Regions from separate parts of the Homo sapiens genome. Here regions 2, 3, 4, 5 and 6 are each linked to region 1. The links come from fine-mapping of genetic effects on gene expression. A gene starts in region 1. Each other region holds a variant in brackets. All regions are shown on one strand. Distances are from middle to middle.

Region 1 (4,089 bases):
GATAATAAATGTGTGTTTTAATCCACAAAGTTTACGATAACTTGTTACAGCAGCAATAGGTAACTAATACACTGGGCATGGGTATAAGGGTGAAAGGAGCATTGAGAAGAAGGGCCTTGTACAACTGGGTGGATGGCTGTTTGGGACCCCAGAGTCTGGGAACCCAGAAGCAAGAGTGAATGAGGGGCCGGGTGCAGTGGCTCACACCTGTAATCCCAGTACTTTGGGAGGCTGAAGTGGGGGGATCATTTGAGGTCAGGAGTTTGAGACCAGCTTGGCCAACACGGTGAGACCCCATCTCTACTAAAAATACAAAAATTAGCCAGACATGGTGGCACATGCCTGTAATCCCAGCTATTCAGGAGGCTGAGGTAGGAGAATCACTTGAACCCGGGAGGCAGAGGTTGCAGTGAGCTGAGATCACGCCACTGCAATCCGGCCTGGGCGACAGAGTGAGACTCCATCTTAAAAAAAAAAAACGAGTAGGGGAAGAACAGAAGGTAAAGAAACATTGACGTGGCACTTAGTGAGGTTGGGGTGCCTGTGACACATCCCACTGGACAACTGGCCATAAGGATCTGGCCCTCAGGAGAAAAGCTGACCCCGAGAGAGGGCTTTTGGAGCACCCTCAAATATTCTGTGATTGAAGCCAAGGAGTGAGAGAATTCGCAGAAACAAACAGAATCAGAAGAAAGGAAAGCCTAGAACAAAACCCAAGGAAAACTAAAACTCAAGTGGAGCAAAGGGGAGTGGCCAGAGAGGAAGAGGAAAACCCAAGACTTGTGGGTCACAGAAGGCAGAGGAGGGGAGAGTTTCAAGGAGGAAAATCCAACACTTACGGAGCACCAAAAGAAGAGAAGGGAAGAGTTTCAAGGAGGGGACCAGTGTCTCGTGTTCCTGACAGGAGAAAGAAATGCCTGGAGAAAGAAATGATTGAATATCTACGTCAATATTGAAAGTGGATTTAGCATGAGGCTACTATAGTTTAAGCTTCAGAGACCCTTCATAAGCTCAGGAAGGGGCCCTAGAAACTTCGTATTTGTAATTGTTTTATTCTTCCTAAAGAGGGACTCAAAATTCAGAAACTTCAGGGCCTATCAAATTCTTACCAGTATGATTTCACGGTTAAGAGCTTAAAGCCTGGAGACAAAAGAAGCCTGCTTTCCCTTTCGCTGTTTAGTAACTTTGGATGGGTCACATTAACTTTCAGCCTCGGCTTTCCTCAGTTGTAAAATGGGAATAACGTTTCCTACACCTATAGGGTTATAAGGCTCAAAGAGTACCTACACAGTGCCCCGTACATAATCGATGTTTATAAGCGTTAGCTACCATTGTCACTCTTGTCGTTGTTGCCGTTAGCTACCATTGTCACTCTTGTCGTTGTTGCCAGAACAAGACAATAAACTCCTTAAGAACAGGATGTGGCATCCCCCAAAGCCCATCACAGGCACACAGACATACTTGCCAAGTGAATACTCCACTCTCCCCCAACTCTCTGCGTGTTTAACTAGAAATACAACTTTAATTATATTCTTAGTGCGACACACACGGTTGGCTTTTCAGCAAGATGCCAGTAGCAGCTTCCTGAAAAAGGGTGCCTTCGTCTCAGTGTTCCCCCTTCTTGGTGAGCCCCGAAACTCACAGATCGTTTGTCTCCCGCACCCCGCCGGCTCCTCCCTCCCGGGTCAACCTGGGACAGACGCGGAGATAACGCACTGACAGCATTAGCATTGTGTGTGCCACTTAAAAGGCGCTCAAGGAATAAGGGATGTTAGTACATTTTCCCCCACATTTCCTGGCCCGCACTCATTGCCTGGGGGCTCAGCGGAAGTCGCTTGGGGGTGCGGGGGGGTGGAGGGTGCGGTAGGGATGGAGCCTCGCCCAGTGCTTTCGCCTCCTCAGCGTGCTCCCCGGGCCCGGCTGGGTTCAGGTGTCCCTCCGGGCCGCCGGGGCGGGCTGGAGGCCGGGAGCGGGCAGTCGACGCATCCGCCGCCGCCGCAGGAGGCGGAGCGCTGCACCTGGCGGCCGGTCCTCAGCGCCCGGCCCTGAAACGGGTCCAGCCGGTAGTGACCGGCGGCGGCGACTGTGAGGCCGGGGCCGGGGAGGAGGAGGAGCCGCAGCGGGAGAGAAGGTCGCGCCGGCGGGAGCGCTGGGCCCTCCGCCTCCGTCCTCCGTGGCCCCACCCGGTCCGCATCCCTCGCCTCGCCTCGCCGCGCCCCGCCCAGCCCGTCGCAGCCCCGGAGGAGCGCGCGAGCAGCCCGGGATGGTGCGCGCTGCCCCGACAGCCGCCGCCCCGGCGCCCCGAGCCGCCGCCCCGTGCTCCGGGGACAGGGCTCCCCGCGCCCCGCGCAGCTGAGCGCTGCCGCCGCCGCAGCAGGTGAGTCGGGCCCGGCTTGCGGAGAAGGGGCTCGCAGACCCGCCCTGGCCTCCCCCGCCCCGCACGGGCCCAGCCGGAGGGCGGGTAGGCACCTCAGCCGCGCACACCTGCTGCCGGGAAAGGGGCTTCGGGGCCGGGGCTCGGAGCCCAGCGTGCGCCGCTGTCTCCGCTCGGGCCTCGCTCGCCCGCCGCTCCCTCCCTCCCTCCCTCCCCCGGCTTCCGTGTCGGGTGTCATCTTTGTGGGGTGCTGGGGGAGGCTGCCGCCTGCGCCCCCAGCGCGCCCCGTGCTGGCAGCACTTCCGCAAACGTAACTGGAGTCGGGAAAACAAAGGCGCTGCCCAGGGAGCCCTCGCCGGGCGCCCACAGCTGCTGCCGCGGGTGGGGACGGAGGGTGAGCGCCGATGCCCGGGTCCTCCTCCGCCCGGGCCGACCCGCGCCCTCGCCATAAACATCCCTGGGAAAAAGGAGGAGGTGAGAACCTCCACACAGCCCCAGTGACAAGGACGCGGCCACTTGTGTGGCAGGAGGAGGAAATTGACAACGTCTGCCCTCCCAGGTTAATAAATACGGAAAAAAAAATACCTCTGCTCTGCCAGCCACCATCCTAGCAGACATCCCCCACCTCGTGCTTTACTTCCACTTGGTCTAACATGTCTCTGGAGCCCTTTTGAGATACTACTGGGGGTTGCTAGTCTTTCTGGGTCATATTTATTGCCCATAGAGCAATTTTCCTGCAAATTTAGGTAAGATGGTGGAAAAATACAAACGCAACTTTCCCCCTCGTTAATCCCATCCCCACATGGACAGACAGGTGGGTTAATTACCTTTATGCATTCGCAACCACGGACGTTTCTTTTCATCCCAAAAAGATTGAATAAGCACCTCACAGAACTACTGGAACATATAATACCTTGCTTATTAGTGTGCAAAAGACTTAAAGAGTTGGGGTTCTAATCCCAACTGGTATTTAAATAGATGTGTGTGCTTGGGCATGTCACATCTTCCTGAGCCCCAGTTTTCTCACATGGAAAAGAGGATGGTTGGATATTATAGTGGCCAAAATTTCCCCTAATCCTTCTAGAAGTCCATGATTTTCTAGAAATCTAACCTCTTAAGTATAGATGAATGTGAAGGGTGGGTGGACATACAGTTGACTAAAATATGTAATAAAAGGAGATGTGTACTTGGTAGGTCCTTTCCCCAAGATGTGGGCACTAGCCAGCTAAAAGTGTATGCATCTGTTTTAGCCTTGTTAAGTAAAAGGATAGGATCCTCCTCTTTGGGAAGCTTGGCTTTTGACACGTCAAGCTGCTAGCAGAGGTGCAGGATATGGTCAGCTGTTTAGTGATAGTCAGATGGCTTGTATTTATCACGAGGTGTAAGTAAAATTTAGGATTGCTTAGGGGAAGGATGGGACATTGTTAATGAGCCCAGTGCAGGATGCTCTGGGGAAACAGGAGGAGAGAACATCACTTCAATAATGCATTAAAGCTACTAAGTAGTTGTGTGTCCTTCATGTTTACAGCAGTTTATTTCTAAGGCACTTTCCATCTCTATACAAATAAATATAAAAGCGTGAAGGCAAATAAAACACAAAGACAAAAAGCAGAGTTCACAGGTATTTGGTGGTGTGAGTATTGGATCACCAATTCCATCATATATAGTGTCTGGACTATTAACAGTATTAAGGCATTTTTTTGGGTACTTATTAT
Region 2 (4,089 bases), 230 kb after region 1:
TGACTCAGGAGACTGATAAAGGAGGATCACCTGAGGCCTGGAATACAAGACCACCCTAAACAACAAAGCAAGACCCTGTCTCCACAACAAATTAAAAAATTAGCCAGGCATGGTGGTCACATGCCTATAGTTGTAGCTATTCGGGAGGCTGAGGCAGGAAAATCGCTTGAACCCAGGAGTTTGAGGTTACAGTGAGCTATGATTGTGCCACTTCACTCCAGCCTGGGCAACAAAGCAAGATTCTGTGTCTTAAAAAAAAGAAAAGTATCAAATGTCTGTTGTAAGACTCCAGGTATTTACTATTTCAAACTTTTCTTAAATTTATTTTTAAAAAGTTCAGATGCATAAAATTATAAATAATAATATAATAAACACCCACATACCCAGCATCCATATTAAGAAACAAAACATTACCAATATAACTGAAGTCCTGTAAATTCCATCCTTAATGCACCCCTTTATGCCTCTACCATAGTTAGGCAAATCCTGAACTTGGGGATTAATCTTTCTAAGCATTTATTTTTATTTTAACCATATTACATATGTATTTATAATGTGTGTTTGTTTAATTATTTAAGAATATTCAATTCTGCTATACAAAATAAGAGAAACAAACACATAGGGAGAAAAAAATGAAACTAAGAATTGAAGCAAGTAGCTTATGAAACAAGCAAAATTCCTACAAAATGTAGTAGTGCATTTGCGTAATGAACATAATTAGAAAGAGATGGAAAGAACAAGAAACACCTAATAGTCATGATACATGTGAGGCCCTGAATCATCCAACTTTCATGACGCACTGAAGATACTTAAGGCATATCAGGCATTCCCTATTCAAAAGGTTTTAATCTGGCCAACCGTTGGCTCCTCATATCCTCTGCAAAAGAAATATAAATAAAATCCATAGCTGTTCATGAGGTTAACTGATGAGCTACTGCTGTCAGCTAGACCCACTCTGCTCCCAAGACTTTAGAGCAACTGTGTGTTTTGACCCTAAACACCCGTCTGTTGGGCTGCTTTGGTTAAATCTCAACTCTGATCTTTGCAAGCAAACACTTGGTTAGGAAGGCTGATGTGGCAGGGAGAGACAGGACTGAGGATTCAGGTGTTGTCATCTTTCCACCCTGCCTCCTGTGACACATCTTAAATGTGTTAACCCCCTCCATGTCTTTCACCTAGCTTCTTATGGTGTGTTTTAAATTGATTTAATAAGCCACGTGATTTGAGGATTTTGTTTTGGTCCATAAGCCTTTCTTGTTCTGTGATCCCTTGAATAGCTTGCCTGTTAGTGTACTTACAGGCTACCATTGCAGCAACAATGGTTGTTGTTTCCCACACAACAATAGCATTTGCAAGTTTTTAACCTAGATAGAAATATATTCTACACATTCATCTGCAATCTTTTTTTTAAGAGACAAGAGTCTTGCTCTGTCACCCAGAATGGAGTGCATTGGTGCAGTCATAGCTCACTGCAGCCTACAACTCTTGGGCTCAAGGAATCCTCCCACCTCAGCCTCCTGAGTAGCTAGGACCATGGGCATGTGCCACCAAGGCTTGGCTAATTTTATTTTTTGTAGAGCAGGGCCTTGCTGTGTTGCCCAGGCTGGTCTCAAACTCTTGGCCTCAAGAAGTCTTCCTGCCTTGGCCTCCCAAAGTGCTCCCAATTTACAGGCATGAGCCACTGCGTCTGGTCTTGCAACTTGATTTTTGGTCAACTTGATCAACATCTTGTTTGTGAGATTCTTCCATGGGAGATATGCATATCTATTTCATTCATTTTCAGAGCTATATTCATTGAATATTTCACAATTTACCCATAAATTCTTCTGTTGATCTAATATACATCATTTCCAATTTTTTCTATGCTGCTGTGAATATTCTTGTATGTATCTCCTTGGGCACAGGTAAGAGAGCTTCTCAGAGACTACACCTAGGAGTGCAATTTCTGGGTCACAGAGTATGCACACCTTTAACTTAACTAAATACCACCAAATTGCTCTCCAAAGTGTTTGTACCAATTTATACTCTTAACAGAAGTAAGTTCCTATGTTGTTTGTTTTTTGAGACAGGCTCTCACTCTGCGGCCCAGGCTGGAGTGCAGGGGCATGATTATAGCTCACGGCAGCCTTGGACTCCAGGCTTAAGCAATCCTCCTACTTCAGCCTCCCC[A/T]CTAGGTGGAACCACAGGCGTGTGCCATCATGCCTGGTTAAGTTTTTATTTTTTGTAGAGACGGGATCTCATTATATTGCTCAGGCTAGTTGCTAACTCCTGGACTCAGGTGATCCTCCTGCCTTGGCCTCCCAAAATATTGGAATTAAAGGCAGTTTCTATGTTCTTAATCCTAGCCAACACTTTGTGCTGTCAGACTTTTAAAATTTTTACTGATCTGATGAATGGATGAGCTCTGCTCACAAAGAATCATCTTATGGCATTTCCTTAGTACTTTAATTATGAGGAAAAAAAATCTGTGCAAATTTTGTGTCAGATTTTTGGATTTTCTCATTCTCTGCTTAAGGCCAAGTAAGGTTTCCTCTTTCTATTTCCATCACTGTCAGCAGCAAAGGAAAAACTTTGCAACAAAACTTGTTATATTTTTTTCAGAAGGATTAAAGTTTGGAAGAATACCATATTGGAGGCTTTAAGTCTCAAAAATATCCCTCTGATTATACAGGGGCATAAGAAAATGAATTTAACTGCATCCATGCAAATCAATCATCACTAAGCGTATGTCGTAATGACGGTAGGTCAGTAGTGGAACAACTATGACTCACAGGCTGAGAATGCCCTCATTTAAGAAATTCTACAAAGTTGCTCCCTACCCCAGAATATCTACCCCAGGGGCTTGTTCCATGTCTCAAATTCAGCTACTAAAGTGCTGAAGTCCAAAATTTTCATATTTAAGAAAACTCCAAAAGAAAACACATCTCAAAAATCATATTTAGTACTTATAAGTCATTAGCACCTTATTTGTCACATCTCTTAAAAACACAAAAGGAATGGGACACAGAACCTGCAAGTGCTAATAAGGCATAAGGTGGAGGCCACCCTCAACTTCTTCCTCCCCCTTTATCCAGAACATTCAGACAGACAAATCTCTGTTCTTAGCATCTTGCTTAAATCTTTTCGATGGCTCCCCAAAAGGGCTAGCAGTGTTCTCCAAGTGTGGTCTAGGGGTCCCTTCTGGCTTCAGATCCTTCACTAAGGTAATCATTTAAAAAGTACAGATTTCCCAAGTGCCAGCCCAGGCCTACTTAATCAGTATGTCTGACAGGGAGATCCTGGAATCTGTTTTCAATAAATAATCCAGCTTGATTTTCTTAAAAATACTTTTTCACAATTGAGAAGTATAGTGTACAGTAAGTACAGAAAGCATAAATGTGCAGTTCAATGATTACAAAGTGAACATCCACATAACCATGGTCCAGAACAAGAAAGAGGGCCTTGCTTGCCAGCACTTCAGAAGCCCCCTTGTTCCCCTTTCAATCATTTCTCTCTTCTCTTAGTTGTATCTACTATTCTCATGTCTGACACTCACAGCTTGATTCTTGCACTCACTGGTGCTGAGAACTACAGCTACAAGATAAAGTCCACACTGCTTAGCGTGTCAGAGGTGGCTCCTGCACAATTTGGTCTCTACAATTTCATCTTCTGCCTCTGCCCTCTTCACATGTAATTCTCAAGTCATTTGGAATCAGTTATGCTTCATTTCACAATAATTTCCCTAAGTTACTGCTCATGTTTATGCTGCCTCACTGCCTCTGTGCTTCTGTACTTGCTGGGGAGTGCCTGCACTTCCTGAGTCTATTAATTTCATCCTTCCAGACCTGTCCAATTGTTGCTTGCTTACAAGGCCTACTGACTTTCACCCCTCTGCCCTACCCAAACCAGAACCATCACTCTTTCTTTGTGTGACTAAGAACATCTTATAATGTGTGCAAGTGCTTGTTTACATGTGTATTCCGCTTTCTAGACCAGGAAATAGGGCAGAGATTTAATTTTCTTGTGCTTATAGGCTTAGTGTGTATCCCTCAGTCAGTGCTTAATTGTTGAACAAGCAAATAGTCTCCAGGTATAAACATCTTAGGAAAA
Region 3 (4,089 bases), 21 kb after region 1:
TCAGTATTTCTTGGTTCTTCAGCTCCACTCATACTTGTGTTGTTCCTTGGGTACCAAGGTCCATAGCTGGTCTGCCTTTTTTTGTCTATCTTTCAGAGTCTTCTATGTTTACTTTATATATTATTGTCTAGGGTTTTTAGTTGTACTTAGCAGAAGTGATAGAGAAAATTGTGTCTACTCCATCTTCTTGGAAAAGAAGTCTACCACTTTTTTTTTTTCTTTTTTTTTGAGACAGAGTTTCACTCTTGTCACCCAGGCTAGAGTGCAATGGCACAATCTTGGCTCACTGCAATCCCCACCTCCTGGGTTCAAGCGATTCTCCTGTCTCAGCCTCCTGAGTAGCTGGGCTTACAGGTGCCTGCCACCATGCCCAGCTAATTTTTGTATTTTTAGTAGAGATGGGGTTTCACCACGTTGATCAGACTGGTCTCGAACTCCTGACCTCAGGTGATCCACTTGCCTCAGCCTCCCAAAGTGCTGGGATTACAGGCGTGAGCCACTGTGCCCTGCCATGTCTACCACTTTTAATACCATAACTTAGTTTTGCCTGTTTATTATTTTTCCATAAGTGGAATCATGTGTTCAGTGATCTTTTGTTTCCTGCTTCTCTTAGTCCATATTATGTTTGTGAGATTCATCCTTGTCACTGCATGTAGTTGTAGTTTGTTCATTTTTACTGTTGCACAGTATTTCTTTGGATGGAAATACTACAATTTATGTATCTGCTGTAGACAGGTTGCTCCCAGTTTTGAGCCATTAAAATTATTCTGCAGTGAACATGTTTATAGATGTCTTTCGGTGAATATACATATCTTTTGGTTGTCATAGGGTCTTACACTCAGGATTAGTAGCTATTCCCAGTTTTTAAAGTAGTGTATCAATTTACAGTCCCACCAGCAATCTATGAGAGTTCTAGTTGCTCCACATCCTCATCAACATTTGATATTACAGGTTGAGCATCCCTTATTTAAAATGCTTGGGACCAGGAGTATTTTGGATTTAGAATTTTTTCAAATTTTAGAATATTTGTTTTATACTTACCTGTTCAGCCTTCTAAATCCAAAAATCAAAAATGCTACAATGTGCATCTCCTTTGAGTATCATGTTGGCACTCAAACATTTAGAGATGCTTGCTTATTTATTTATTTATTTATTTATTTATTTATTTATTGAGACAGAGTTGCACTCTTTCACCCATGCTGGAGGGCAGTGGTGCTATCTCAGCTCACTGCAACCCTGCTTCCTGGGTTCAAGTGATTCTCCTGCCTCAGCCCCCCGAGTAGCTGGGATTACAGGCATCTGCCACCATGCCTGGCTAATTTTTTTAGTTTTAATAGAGATGGGGTTTTGCCACATTGGCCAGGCTGGTCTTAAACTCCTGGCTTCAAGTGATCCACCTCCCTCGGCCTCTCAAAGTGCTGGGATTACAGGTGTGAGCCACCATGCCCAGCCTCAATCTTTTTTATTTCAGCCATTTTTAGAGTATGTTACATTATTGTATTCTGGTTTTAATGCTTTCACTGGCGATTAATCAAGTTGATCATCTTTTTACATATTTATTGGCCATTTGTATAGGCTCTTTTGTGAGGTGCCTATTCAAGCTTTTTGCTTATTTTTCCTATTGGGTTACCTGATATTTTCCTACTGATTTTTTTCTATTGATTTTAAAGAATAAATTTTTATATATCTGTATAATTCTTTTGTTA[C/CGT]GTGTGTGTGTGTGTGTGTGTGTATACATATATCACCAAAATATCTTCTCTCACTCTTTGACTTGCCATTTCAATCTTTAATGGTAGCTTATGAACAGAAATTCTTTTTTTTTTTTTGAGATGGAGTCTCACTCTGTCGCCCAGCCTGGAGTACAGTGGTGCAATCTCGGCTCACTGCAACCTCCGTCTCCTGGGTTCAAGCGATTCTCCTGCCTCAGCCTCCCAAGCAGCTGGGATTACAGGCACCCACCACCATGCCCAGCTAATTTTTGTATTTTTTTAGTAAAGACGGGGTTTCATCATGTTGGCCAGCCTGGTTTCGAACTCTTGATCTCAGGTGATCCTCCCAAAGTGCTAGGATTACAGGTATGAGCTACTGCACCTAGCCAGAAATTCTTAATTTTAATGTAGTTCAATTATTTTTTCTTCTTTAATGTTTAATATACTCTGTGTCTTATTTAGTAAATATTTTCCTATCTATAAATCTTTAAGATATTTTTCTATGTTTTCTTCTAAAAGCTATGTTATTTAATCTTTGACTTTTAAACCTATAATCTACCTGGAATTCATTTTTGTATATGATGTCAGATACATATATCTGTGTATTGTTGCTCTTGTTCTTTTTTTTTCTTTATTATACTTTAAGTTCTAGGGTACATGTGTACAATGTGCAGATTTGATACATATGTATACATGTGCCATGTTGGTGTGCTGCACCCATTAACTCGTCATTTACATTAGGTATATCTCCTAATGCTATCCCTCCCCCAGCTCCCCACCCCCCAACAGGCCCCAGTGTGTGATGTTCCCTGCCCTATGTCCAAGTGTTCTCATTGTTCAATTTCCACCTATAAGTGAGAACATGTGGTGTTTGGTTTTCTGTCCTTGTGTCAGTTTGCTGAGAATGATGGTTTCCAGCTTCATCCATGTCCCTGCAAAGGACATGAACGCATCCTTTTTATGGCTGCATAGTCCTCATTCTTTTTTTTTTTTTTTTAATTGATCATTCTTGGGTGTTTCTCGCAGAGGGGGATTTGGCAGGGTCATAGGATAGTAGTGGAGGGAAGGTCAGCAGATAAACAAGTGAACAAAGATCTCTGGTTTTCCTAGGCAGAGGACCCTGCGGCCTTCCGCAGTGTTTGTGTCCCTGGGTACTTGAGATTAGGGAGTGGTGATGACTCTTAAGGAGCATGCTGCCTTCAAGCATCTGTTTAACAAAGCACATCTTGCACCGCCCTTAATCCATTTAACCCTGAGTGGACACAGCACATGTTTCAGAGAGCACAGGGTTGGGGGTAAGGTCACAGATCAACAGGATCCCAAGGCAGAAGAATTTTTCTTAGTACAGAACAAAATGAAAAGTCTCCCATGTCTGCTTCTTTCTACACAGACACAGCAACCATCCGATTTCTCAATCTTTTCCCCACCTTTCCCCCTTTTCTATTCCACAAAACCGCCATTGTCATCATGGCCCGTTCTCAATGAGCTGTTGGGTACACTTCCCAGACGGGGTGGTGGCCAGGCAGAGGGGCTCCTCACTTCCCAGAAGGGGCGGCCGGGCGGGCAGAGGCGCCCCCCCCACCTCCCTCCCGGACGGGGCGGCCGGCCGGGCGGGGGCTGACCCCCCACCTCCCTCCCGGACGGGGCGGCTGCCGGGCGGAGACGCTCCTCACTTCCCAGATGGGGTGGCTGCCGGGCGGAGGGGCTCCTCACTTCTCAGACGGGGCGGCTGCTGGGTGAAGGGGCTCCTCACTTCTCAGATGGGGCAGCTGGGCAGAGACGCTCCTCACCTCCCAGACGGGGTCGCGGCCGGGCAGAGGCGCTCCTCACCTCCCAGACGGGGTCGCAGCCGGGCAGAGGCGCTCCTCACATCCCAGACAGGGCGGCGGGGCAGAGGCGCTCCCCACATCTCAGACGATGGGCAGCCAGGCAGAGACGCTCCTCACTTCCCAGATGGGATGGTGGCCGGGAAGAGGCGCTCCTCACTTCCCAGACTGGGCAGCCAGGCAGAGGGGCTCCTCACCTCCCAGAGGATGGGCGGCCAGGCAGAGACGCTCCTCACTTCCCAGACGGGGTGGCGGCCGGGCAGAGGCTGCAATCTCGGCACTTTGGGAGGCCAAGGCAGGCAGCTGGGAGGTGGAGGTTGTAGCGAGCCGAGATCACCCCACTGCACTCCAGCCTGGGCACCATTGATCACTGAGTGAACGAGACTCCGTCTGCAATCCCGGCACCTCTGGAGGCCGAGGCTGGCGGATCACTCGCGATTAGGAGCTGGAGACTAGCCCGGCCAACACAGCGAAACCCCGTCTCCACCAAAAAAATACGAAAACCAGTCAGGTGTGGCGGCGCGCGCCTGCAATCGCAGGCACTTGGCAGGCTGAGG
Region 4 (4,089 bases), 33 kb after region 1:
AGATGCCTCCCTTCAGCTTGGGCAGATGAGCAAATCTCACTGCAGTTAATAATGTCTTTAAAATCACTGTTATTCATTCCCAGAAAGGTACCCAGTTAGGTCTTACCAATGCGTGGAGTTCTTAGACATCATTATTTAATAAGTCAATAGCATGAGTTGAACACTGACTCAGTACAGAGTATGTGTTTAGGTTCTATTTTCTTTTTTTTCACGTTTTATTTGTTTATTTTTTTATTATACTTTAAGTTTTAGGGTACACGTGCACAACGTGCAGATTTGTTGCATGTGTATAGATAGGTTCTATTTTCAAAGGAATTGTTAGGTTATTTCCACATGCTAAGAAAAGATGGTTCTCTTCTACCTTTGCCTTTTGTCTGAGACATATGCAGCATTTTCATGATAAAATCCTAGTGGGTTTACTACTCCTTTGGTAAGCTTAGACTTGTGTGTTTCTTTCCTGTGTAGTATTAGTTACTCATCATTTCAAAATTCACTTAACCTTAATTTTCTGGTTTTTACGGACAAAAAGCATCTTCCATTTCTTGTTTAATAATGTGATGGAAGAAGATGGCTGTTATGGTCATATTGCTCCCAAGAGTCTGTGGGAATTCCATCAGTATGTGGTCATTTACCTGTTTTGAATTTTCATTCTGTCCATTAAAATGTATTAATTATTTCAAGTGCTTTTAAAAGAGTCTGATAGCTAAAATGAGAATATGTCCACATACTTAGGTAGAATGGATCTGTTCCTTTTAGTGATAATTTTGGGAGCTCAGTCAGGTGGTATTGGTTGTGATTTGGGGATTTAAACTTTCCACTGGAAGAATACCATTCATTAAGTAGTTGGTGAAGAGAAATGATCTCTGAATTATGAGCCTTGATGTGTTGCTTGTAGGATCACAGAAGTAGATCTGCCCATGGCCTTTATGCATGCATGTATATTATTTCAGTACTTTGTGGTTGTCCTGTTGGAAGTTTGTTTTTAGGAGTTGGCACTACCATATATTTGTGGAGATTCACAAATTCTTCATCTAGAGTAATAATAAGAAAGATTCATACCAGAAAATAGTTTTTTAAAAATAGCATGTCCAGTTTTGAACTCAGTATTTTAACAGTTTCACAATATACAACCAGTTTCTCAGGGACTGACCTGTCAGTCTAAACACACACACATAGAGTATCTGATTTCTGATTTTGACCTTGGATTTTGTCCTTCTCTGGAAGGTGACTTTCTCAGGCAAATAGGATAATAATGCTAAATATTTCCACTTTTAAAAATAAATTTCTTTTGATCCAAAATCATAAGACTTTGGAATTTACAGCAAGTATATTTTTAGGCTATAAATGATTAACAGGATATAAATGTATCTTAAGGTATCTTCACATTGCTTAACATTTTAGCAGCTATGAGTAGGATTATAATCAAAATACATTGCAGTAAATCATTTGTAAATTTGTAAATCATTACTTTCCAATGTTAGGCCATCCCCTATGTTATTTGATTTAAATTTATTTACATTTTAAGGGACACAGAAAAATCTATTCAATCAATCTGTGACTTTGCCCTGAAATTCTTACACTCAAGGTCTGTTTTGCCATGCAAATATTATCCGGGGGGGTTACATTACCTATTATTAGCCATCAATTACTACTTAATATTAGCAAAATATACAAATGAACTAGCCAGTCAGTTTGGGAAAGAAGAAAATACCTGATGCAGCTAGTAAGAGGAGGAACACCAGGGTTTCCTGATGGGATGCTGCAGGATGAACCAGAACAGATAGCAAGATGCTGGGCTTCAGCACAGCCAAGGACACATGGGAGGTGGCACATGATAGTCTGGTCACTGGAGGAATAGCAGTAAGTATTATAAGAGGGAAGAAACTCTGCAGCCGGGTGTTCAATGTGAGCTGGCCACTGAAGGGTTTAAGGAAGATCATGCCTACTTTTTTTTCTCCTTCTTCTCATCATCTTATTTCTACCCATCTCTTTGTGCCATCTTTGCTGATCTTAGGCCCACAGGCTCTCAGATCCTCTCCTTGCCCCGTATGAAAGGGTGCTGATTTCTGTAGGCTATGTTTTCCAGGGTCTGTTCTCGTGTCTTCTAC[T/C]TGGGTTCGGCTAATGTATTGGTTCTCAACTCACCAAGAGAGCTTTTAAAGCTCCTAATGCCCAGGTTGCACCCAGACCAATTACATCAGTCTTTCTAGGGGTGTACCGAGGCATTCAACGTTTTTACAGCTTCCTAGTTGATTCTAGTTTGTGCAGCCAAGGTTGAGAACCACCAGGCTAATGGGAGGCATAGGTAAGGGGAGGATTACAGGAAAGGAGGAGGGGCGGGGGTTGGGGGGAAAGCAGGGCATTTATATTTCTCTTTCCAGCTCATGCAGCATGTTTGTGTAAGATTTGGAGATGGTTCCCTCTAGTCCTCTCTCTGGCCTCTTGTAGTTTACTTATGTACATGTGCTGGTCAGTACTCAGCTGAAGACTCTAGGGAAGCTACAGATCTCTACAGTCCTCTCTCTCTGTAGCTTTCTCCACGTGGGTACTCTGTCCCGCTTCCCAGACTCTCAGCCTTGTCTCCTCAGCTCTAGAGACCTCTGTGAGCTGCTGCGTCTCACCTATGCCCCACCCACTGTGGGTGGCCCTGAGCTCCAACAACATTCTCTCCTCTCTTTATTCTTCTGCCCAAGGCCGTGGAGAGGCTGCCTGTGGTTCTCACAGTGGTCTGGCTTCCCAGCTTTTCTGTCACCTACCTAACCAAGTCCCTGAATTAAGTCAGATTGGTGCCTGCCTCTGATGAGATCCTGATCCACCACTCTTCACTACTTACAAAGACTCCTGATGGCAATTGATACTGTGAAGAAACAGAATACAAATAGAATAACTCAATTATTGATTAAAAAGCAAAAAGATGGTAGACCTTAAATAACTTTTTCCCCATTCTGATTCCTTAAGGGAGGATTAATTCTTCTTTAAAAATGGTTTTTACCACAATAAAAATGTTTTAAAAGATGACTTAATTCTCATAGTAAATTTGGAATTATGAATTCTACATGCTCTAGAGGACCAAGTATTATTCTATATTACTTAAAAATCAAAATCCTAGACATTTGTTCAATTTAGTTGAACAGTTATTTAGGCCCAAAGAGCCTCAGATTAGTAAGATGCAGGGGCTGAATACTAAAGGGAAGCGTGTTGGAAAAAACAGGAGAGACTGAGGCCAGATGGATGCTGGGATCAGTAACCTGAATTTCATCTGGAGGCAGTAGGTAGCCATAGCAAGGTTCAAAGCAGGGAGGACCATAGATTTTCATATGTTCCTCCCTGCTTTGAATGTTGCTATGCAGGGTAACTTTGAAGCCAGGAGCCCACTGAGAAGGTTCTTAAAATAGTCCAAGTAAGAGACGGTACAGGCCTGAACTGCAGCAGTAGCAACAGAAATTGAGGGAAGGAATAGATCTGGGAGGTAAAATTGACAGAATTATTTGGATGTGGAAGTGAGGTAGAGACCCCTACATTTCCAGCTTGGTATGGTAATTCCAAAAATCTAATAGGAAATTCAGAAAGGAGATGTAGAATGGGGTGGGGGTGTGATTGTTTGGTTTGAAATTGAAACATCTAGATGGGGATGTCTAGCAGGCAGTTGACACAATATTGTAAGTCTGAAGCTTATAGGAGAGGTTAGGACGGGATGCAGATTTGCAGCAGTGAAAATCGGGAATGTGGATAAGATCAACAAGGAAATCTTGTCGTCTAAGAAGAGAAATGGGCTGAGGAAAATCAATTATAATTGTCTCCAAGATAGTATTTCAAGTTTCTGATTTATTGAAATGTTGGTCTGTGCTTTATTGCTTAAAGTAAGTATCCTTATGCTTGAGAATATTTTGTGTTATATGGAACTGTCATTATGGTATTACCGTAACCTGTTTCTATATATTGTTTTAGCAGCAATGGACTTTCTGAGCACCCCCCAATATCATCACCTGAGCCAGGAACCCTCTGTGGGTGTTCCTAGGTGGGCCTAAGACATAAGCAAGGGAGAAAAAAAATAAAAGGAACAGGACTTTAAGGATTGTATGGTGGTTACGA
Region 5 (4,089 bases), 200 kb after region 1:
GAATAAATGTTGTTGGGTTGAATTCAATGGAATGTATCTGAGGAACAAGAGTTTCACAGTGTCCACCTTCCAGTCTTGCGCTTGTGATTTAAATACTCACTCACAGTTAAGCTAAGGCCGGACCAAAATAGGGAAGATTACAGTTTGTCTTTTCTTTCAGTGGCCTTTTTTTCTAACTTCCTTTTTCCTACTAGTTACAGCCCCTCTCCTCCTTTTAGATTCCCAGTGACCTAAATTTTTCCTGTCCTCTTCCCCAAATCAGGAAGGCTCTGGAAACATCACTTGTGTACCAACTGAAACTCCCAGCTCTGCGGCACACTAGCTGTGATCCTGGCCAAGTTCACTTGTCTGAAATTAGTTCCTCATTTCGAACATGAAAAGTATCGTATCTGCCTCCTAAGGTTGCTGTGAAAGTTCAACAAGAGGCCAGGCATGGTGGCTTACGCCTGTAATCCCAGCACTTTGGGAGGCCAAGGCAGGCAGATCACCTGAGGTCAGGAGTTCAAGACCAGCCTGGCCAACATGGCAAAACCCCGTCTCTACTAAAAATACAAAAATTAGCCGGGTGTGGTGGGGCAGGACTGTAATCCCAGCTACTTGGGAGGCTGAGACAGGAGAATTGCTTGAACCTGGGAGGCAGAGGTTGCAGTGAGCAAGATCGTGCCACTGCACTCCAGCCTGGCGACACAGTGAGACGCTGACTCAAAAAAATAAAAAAGAAAAGAAAATTCAACAAGAAACTCCAAGTAAAGCATTAGCACAATCCCAGGCATATAATAATAGCTCAATTAATTTTTTTTAAAAATGCCTTATTTATACAGATATGCTAATTTTTCCCAATGCATTTACTTTAAGAATTTCTATTTAATTGTGGAGCAAATGACCTCTTATTAAAGAAATCTTATTCAAATAAGACCTACTGGCAGCTTCCTTGGTGCCTGGCTTCCTACCTTGTACCGGGAATGCAGGGAGGAAGACTTGATCCCTGCTCTGGTGTGCTGATCCAGAGTCCTCAGTATAGGTGCTGACATGTGAGGCACTTCCAGGGTTCAGAGTGGAGGCATCTGAACAGCCCATGGCGGGTGCTGAAGGCAAGTTTCCCAAGAAGGGGTTCACGAGGGCTGGAATCAGTCAGAGGAATGTAATCTTGTCAGCGGAAACATGAGCAAGGGAATAGGAGTCAGGGTTTGACAGGAGAGGATAAATGACAAGTCATTTGGTTCAGCTGCAGCTTGGGTATGTGTAGGAGGGAGTCAGAAAGATGAGGCTGGAAGGATAAGCAGGTGGCCAAATCTCAGGGGCAACAGCAAGTGGGTGGTAAGGAGTGGGCTGTGGTTCTTCTAGCCCAGTAAGGCTCAACTGCGTTTGCATACTGGAATCACTGGGAGCTTTTAAAAATACCAAAGCCATGACCCTAGACTATTACACAGGAACTACTATGGGCAGAACTGAAGCATCATTTTTTTTTAAATCCAAAGTGATTCTAATACACAGCCAAGATTGAGAAATGCTACAGTCTAGCCCCTGAAATCACACCAACCCAGATTTGGCTGCCAAGTAACTCAGAGTAATTGTGGACCTTTAGCATGGGCAGGAAACCAAAAGCACATCCAACCTTACTCCTGTATTTTTAAAATTAATTAATTTTTATTGTGGTAAAATTAGACATAACATAAATTTACTATTTTATCCATTTTCAAGAGCACAGTTCAGTGGCATTAAGTACAGTCAGTTGCCGTGCAATCATCACCTCCAGCCATTTCCAGGTAAAATTACAAAGGCTTTTCATTTTGAAGTACAATCTATTTTTCTTTTGTTGACTCATGCTTCTGATAGCATAACCCCTGTATTTTATAGATGTGAACACTCATTCCCTCAGGGTGGGCTTCCCTGGAAACAGACTCTGAGATGAAGACTGGTGTACAGTAGTCACTCCTTATTGGTACTTTTGCTTTCTGCAGTTTTAGTTATCTATGGTAAACTGCAGTCCAAAAATATTAAATAGAAAACACCAGAAATAAATAATAAGTTTTAAATTGTGTGACGTTCTCAGTAGGGTGTAAACTTTCAAGCTGTCCTGCTCTGTCCCACCCAGGATGTGAATCATCCCTTTGTCCCCCGTACCCACGCCGTACACGTTCCCCATCC[G/A]TTAGTCACTTTGTAGCCATCTTGGCTATCAGATTGTTGCAGTATCGCAGTGCTTGTGTTCGAGTAATCCTTATTTTACTTAATAATGGTCCCAATGTGCGAGAGTAGTGATGCTGGCAATTCGTATATGCCAAAGAGAAGCTATAAAGTGCTTCACTTAAGTGAAAAGGTGAAAGTTCTTGACTTAACAAGGAAAGAAAAAAAAATTGCTGAAATTAACAAAATTTATAAGAACAAATCTTTTACCCGTGAATTTGTAAAGAAAAATATATTTGTGCTGGTTACAGCACCTCAAACTGTAAACGTCATGGCCATAGAGTATGATAAGTGCTTAGTTAAGATGAAAAAGGCATTCAGTTTGCAGGTGGGAGACATTAAAAGAAATGTGTTTTGATTGGCAACACGTTGCACCAGAAAGCATTGAGCCTGTATGAAGACAAGCATTGATCCCTACAGCAAGGGATCCCCTGAAACGAGTGACACCAAGCCATTTATTGCAAGTAAGGGATAGTTAACAGATTCAGGAATAGGTTTGGACTGAAAAATATATAAATTACTAGAGAGGCTGTGTCTGCTAATGAAGAAGCTGTTGCCACAGGAATACAGAACAATGGGATATTTTGAAGGAGCGAGAGAGACCACATGCGTATGATTTTACTGTAGTATAATTGTTCTATTTTATTATTAGTTATTATTGTTAATCTGTTAGCTGAACCTTATTAAAAAAATTTTATCAGAGGTACGTATGTATAAAAAGAAAATATATATAGGGTCTGGTACTATCTGCAGCTTTAGGCTCCACTGAAGTTCTTGGAATGTATTCTATGAAGATAAGGGGGACTACTGTATAGAGGGGATTACAGCATGCTCTTGGCATTGTTCCTGAACCAATATGGGGGTTGGGCTGCTATTTCTCGTGGCCCAATAATGAGATGCAGATGAACTGGGGACGAAGAGAGTATTTCTGTAACCAGTTACAGGGAGAAGGCCTGGAAATTATTGCCAGACCAACTCAAAATTACAAAGTTTTCCAGAGCTTATATACCTTCTAAGCTATATGTCTATGTGTAACTGAGTGAATTAATCTAAAGACATAAGTGATTAACTTCTTTTAATCTATAACTAAGGTCTGAGTCCTGAAGACCTTCTAGAGCCTCAGTAAGTTTACTTAATCTAAATGGGTCTAGGTGCTGGGGTGATTACCCTTATCTTGTCTCCTGCTAAATCATGGAGGTTTGGGGAGTTCCTTTAGATCTCAATAAACTTGTTTGTGGAGGCCCGAGGAGTTTCTTCAGACCCCCCAATAAAACTTGTTTAATCCTAAAAGGGTCCTGTTAAGAATTCCTTCATTATCTTGTCAAACTTCAAGGCCCATGAAAAGCCTAGGCAAAACTCTTGGTGGGCTCTTTGTTACATTCCAGCCTTTGTATAAGGGCACTGGCTCAATCAGCTTTTAATGTTTAACCTAGCTACTCAGTCAGAGCTGGGACAGTTGTTGTAATGCAGGCCTGCATTAGTGAGACCTGGCCTGCCACAATCACCACTGTCAATTTGTGCATGATTTCTATCATGCTTGTATATTTATTTATCACAAGATCATAGGGATATGGGGCATCATAATCTTTCTGGCTACTTCCTGCTGAGAGAGGGTCATCATTATGGGGACTGAATGCAGTGCTGGAGTGGAGGTGGTTGATTTGTTCCCTCTATTGGCTCTATTTCGGGGGCCTAGAATAGTATGCAACAGCAACACATATAAAGAGGTTGCTGCTGTTTTCTTCTAAAGTTTAAGTTGTCTAGTCTTAAGTTTGCAGGGCTTTACGAAAGCACAGCTCAGGTTTCAGTGATTTCCAATTAGGAAGAATGGGGGAAAAGGAAAAGAAAAAGGGAAAAATTGAAAACATTATTTTGGAGACCTGTAGCCAAAAAATTAGAATTTAA
Region 6 (4,089 bases), 26 kb before region 1:
ATCTCAGGTGATCCACCCGCCTCAGCCTCCCAAAGTGTTGGGATTACAGGCATGGGCCAACGCGCCCAGCCAAAACAGGTTTTATGTATTTATTATTTCTATCTGATACTCAAGGCTAGCCCAAGTTCTGGCTCTAACAAAATGCCTATAATTCTAAATATGATTTTTCTTTTCTAGCCTGTATTTTCAAAGTTCCTCATCTTAAAGGAGCCTTGAACATGTAGGATTAAGAGCTTTCTCCCTTTACCCATTTGCAAAAAGCAAACCAGTCCTGGGCTGGCTATATGGTCTTATGACCTGTGCCGGCTCACAAAGCTCCACCCTCAAAAATGTGCCATGCTTGGTTCTGCTATTGCCATGTTGAAGTTCTTAAAAATTTTACCTTCAAATTCATAAGTTTTGTAAGTGAATGGAGGGGCAATGGAGCATGTGCATGAATGGAGGTGTTACGTAGCTCTGAAAATATTCCAAACACTTTCTGCGTTAAGTGACAGATGTTTTGCTGTGATAAGAACATGGAGCATAGTCCCCTTCCCTGTCAGAATGTTACATCACACTTTTCCAGACCACATATGTGAGTTATTGGCCTCAACGACTAGACTCCAAAACACATATAAACCCAAGATTTTGGCAGACAGATTGAGAGCTCAGGCTGCAACAGGGCTAATCTCTGTCAGCCTTTGAGCTAGCTTTCAAAGCCTCGCCAGCCCACACAGCACTGGCACCACTTGCTAGTGTCCAGGGATCTTACAAGTTGTCTCGGATCTCCCTCACATCCACAGAGGCCTACTTCCATTCTAAGCAACTAAACTGTAATCACTGGACTTGAAATGAAATTATAACTAATTATGTGGATAATGTACCTCATCTGCGGAGTATAATCTCTGCGAGATTTGTTCTTGTTATTTCCCCCCTCTTTGAGCATTAAAAAAAAGAATCTCTTTGTATGGCAATAAACCATGTGATTCCTGAAATCATACTTTGATCATCTTCTTATTGTAGCCATACCAAATAGGAGGAGAAATGTACAAAATGTGTGTGCTTCGTCCCCTTGCAGTTCTGGTCACATAGGGTTCACAGCACCTGTGAGCACAGAATTCTTGTGGACCTATGTTGTATGGGGGTTCAATGAGACTCAAAGCAAGTGCATGGTAAGTGCATTACATTGCTGATGACTGAGCAAGTGGGGGCACTGACAGTTCCCAGAACCAGAACCTGCTTCCAAAGCAAAAACAAGGCAATGGCATTCTAAGAAACAGGAAAACTAAGGAAACCTCCCATGTCCTTTCTTATTTGTGCTATTTTCCTATATTAGCCAATCACATAGGCTGAAATGATGGCACAAAAGGAAAGGTAAAGATAGGACCACACATAGTTCCTTTCCTTTTCAGTTCCTTGCCAGTAAGCTGAAGGTAGGGAGGGCTGGTAGAATGCCGGGGTATCAAGAAGTGAAATAAAAAGAGTTGAGTTAGTTTCCTGCAATGTTTTCACTGTTATGGTAAGAACAATATATATATTCATGTGTGAACTGTGAAAAATGATTTATGTAATTTTGGTGATACCACATATGAGTTAAATACTCTCCAATCTGCATTTAAAACTGGCATTGGGCTGGGCACGGTGGCTCATACCTGTAACCCCAGCACTTTGGGAGGGCGAGGCGGGTGGATCACTTGCAGTCAGGAGTTGGAGACCAGCCTGGTCAACATGGCAAAACCCATCTTTACTAAAAATACAAAATTAGCTGGGCGTGATGGTATATGCCGGTAGTCCCAGCTATTCAGAAGTTTGAAGTGGGAGGATCACTTGAGCCTGGGAGGCAGAGGTTGCAGTGAGTCAACATGGCACCACTGCACTCCAGCCTGGGCGACAGAGCAAGAAGAGAGAGAGAAAAAAAGAAAAATTGGCATTGCATGAGGTAAACATGAATATTAAAGTTCAGACTAATCATTAAAATTGTTATTTTTCTTTATCTATAATGATATCAAACAGCAACAAACAAACACAAAACAACAAAACTCCCAAAACCCAAAAACCATGTCAAGTTGAGAGAGACCATGGAAGAGAGTAAAACTCTTTTTCCTTTATGTGCCTGTAAGGATACTTTTCTCCCTACTTTTTGAACAAGGAGCCCCACATTTTCATTTTA[T/C]ACTAGGTCTCACAAATTATGTAGCCAGCCCCAAATAAGTCCCAGTTCTACTTCTGAATTTACTGTCTTTTGTTCTATCTAAATTTTTGTCATATTTGCTAGTGAGGCCCAAACACAGCCCACTTGCAAGCTAGGCTTGCCCCATCTGAAGGCTCTTTCCAGTTATTTGAAAGCTGAGTTAATAAGGGAACCAGGATGTGCATTAGTACATTTCTCATCTTGTAAGTAAGCAAGTACATTCAGCACATTCTAACACTTGCTGTAAACCTATCAACACTCTCCACCAGGTGTCTCTAGCAGATTTGTGCAGGTGCAGATGCAACATTAAAGGCAAATTGTGGCAAACATCTTGTCTTGGCTAACTTCTTCAATGGGTCACTTTTTAACTGCATCATGTTTTTTTGTTTTTGTTTTTGAGACAGTCTGGCTTTGTCGTCCAGGCTGGAATGCAGTGGCAGGATCCCTGCTCACTGCAATCTCTGCCTCCTGGGTTCAAGTGGTTCTCCTCTGCCTCAGCCTCCCAAGTAGCTAGGACTATAGCCAAGAGCTACCACGCCCGGCTAATTTTTTGTATTTTTAGTAGAGATTGGGTTTCACCAAGTTGACCAGGCTGGTCTGGAACTCCTGAGTTCAGGCAGTCCACCCACGTAGGCTTCCCAAAGTGCAAGGATTATAGGTGTGAGACCGCGCCCGGCATTTTTTTTTTCTTCTTTTTTTTTTTGAGACAGAGTCTCACTCTGTCACCCAGGCTGGAGTGCAGTGGTGTGATCTGGGCTCACTGCAACCTCCACCTCCCAGGTTCAAGTGATTCTCTGCCTCAGCCTCCCGAGTAGCTGGGACTACAGGCACGTGCCACCATGCCCGGCTAATTTTTTGTGTATTTTTAGTAGAGAAGAGGTTTCACCATGTTGGCCAGGATGGTCTCGATCTCTTGACCTTGTGATCTGCCTGCCTCGGCCTCCCAAAATGATGGGACTACACAGGTGTAAGCCACCACGCCCGACCCTTTTTTTTTTTTTTGAGACAAAGTCTTGGTCTGTTGCCCCCGCTAGAGTGCAGTGGTGTGATCTCTGTTGGCTCACTGCAACTGCCACCTCCCAGGTTCAAGTGATTCTCTGCCTCAGCCTCCCGAGTAGCTGGGACTACAGGCACGTGCCACCATGCCCGGCTAATTTTTTGTGTATTTTTAGTAGAGAAGAGGTTTCACCATGTTGGCCAGGATGGTCTCGATCTCTTGACCTTGTGATCTGCCTGCCTCGGCCTCCCAAAATGATGGGACTACACAGGTGTAAGCCACCACGCCCGACCCTTTTTTTTTTTTTTTTGAGACAAAGTCTTGGTCTGTTGCCCACGCTAGAGTGCAGTGGTGTGATCTCTGTTGGCTCACTGCAACTGCCACCTCCCAGGTTCAAGAGACTCTCCTGCTTCAGCCTCCCGTGTAGCTGGAATTACAGGTGCCCACCACCACATCCGGTTAATTTTTGTATTTTTAGTAGAGACGGGGTTTCACCATGTTGGCAAGGCTGGTCTCGAACTCCTGATCTCAAGTGACCCACCCACTTTGGCCTCCCAAAGTGCTGGGATTACAGGCATGAGCCACGGCGCCCAGCTTGCATCATTTTAAATAAACCATCTTCCTTAACCAATTCGTTCCCTTTATTGTGTTTTAAATTGTCATTAAATAATCCTTAAAAAACTGGAAAAATATGGAGAAGTAAAAAGGAGGAGAAAAATCCAACATTCAAGCATAGCTACTGAGAACATTTTAGCCAATGTTCCTAGAATTGTTTTTCTTCTATGAGTAAAAGAATAAAGATTCAAACCACAGAATGGCAGAAGATATTTGTAATACATATCTGATGAAGGACTTGTGTCTAGAAGAATAATTAAATCAATTCAAAAGTTTACAAGAAATAAAGAGCCAATGAACATGCTTGATA

Direction of the effects. Alleles are on the strand shown, and positions count from the first base shown. SD is a standard deviation of normalised expression in the study named. Not every link is listed here.
For the expression in monocytes of the gene that starts at base 2,229 in region 1, allele C in region 3 goes with a higher level than allele CGT (moderate effect, 0.68 SD a copy in Quach 2016).

What was found.
Region 2: its variant is fine-mapped to the expression of MFSD6 in monocytes after LPS (Quach 2016, PIP 0.95).
Region 3: its variant is fine-mapped to the expression of MFSD6 in monocytes (Quach 2016, PIP 0.95).
Region 4: its variant is fine-mapped to the expression of MFSD6 in whole blood (TOPMed, PIP above 0.99).
Region 5: its variant is fine-mapped to the expression of MFSD6 in whole blood (INTERVAL, PIP 0.94).
Region 6: its variant is fine-mapped to the expression of MFSD6 in whole blood (TOPMed, PIP above 0.99).

What each region holds. Positions count from the first base shown.
Region 1 is chr2:190,406,127-190,410,215 of GRCh38, forward strand. It overlaps MFSD6 (major facilitator superfamily domain containing 6), which reads left to right and starts at 2,229. Exons shown (of 8, transcript NM_017694.4): 1 at 2,229-2,377. RefSeq lists an enhancer at 1,500-1,549 and a silencer at 1,810-2,849.
Region 2 is chr2:190,633,823-190,637,911 of GRCh38, forward strand. All of the region lies in intron 4 of NEMP2-DT (NEMP2 divergent transcript), which reads left to right. It also overlaps a transcript of NEMP2 not described here. Among named protein-coding and RNA genes, the nearest start is that of NAB1, 13 kb to the right of the region's middle. RefSeq lists enhancers at 3,361-4,089, 3,631-3,700. The variant A/T (reference allele first, on the strand shown) is at 2,170.
Region 3 is chr2:190,427,521-190,431,609 of GRCh38, forward strand. The region is part of intron 2 of MFSD6 (major facilitator superfamily domain containing 6); the gene reads left to right. It also overlaps a transcript of NEMP2 not described here. Among named protein-coding and RNA genes, the nearest start is that of MFSD6, 21 kb to the left of the region's middle. RefSeq lists a silencer at 1,303-1,502. The variant C/CGT (reference allele first, on the strand shown) is at 1,707.
Region 4 is chr2:190,439,149-190,443,237 of GRCh38, forward strand. All of the region lies in intron 3 of MFSD6 (major facilitator superfamily domain containing 6), which reads left to right. It also overlaps a transcript of NEMP2 not described here. Among named protein-coding and RNA genes, the nearest start is that of MFSD6, 33 kb to the left of the region's middle. The variant T/C (reference allele first, on the strand shown) is at 2,109.
Region 5 is chr2:190,606,006-190,610,094 of GRCh38, forward strand. All of the region lies in intron 4 of NEMP2-DT (NEMP2 divergent transcript), which reads left to right. It also overlaps a transcript of NEMP2 not described here. Among named protein-coding and RNA genes, the nearest start is that of NAB1, 41 kb to the right of the region's middle. RefSeq lists an enhancer at 1,585-2,784. The variant G/A (reference allele first, on the strand shown) is at 2,149.
Region 6 is chr2:190,380,621-190,384,709 of GRCh38, forward strand. No RefSeq gene overlaps it. Among named protein-coding and RNA genes, the nearest start is that of MFSD6, 26 kb to the right of the region's middle. The variant T/C (reference allele first, on the strand shown) is at 2,150.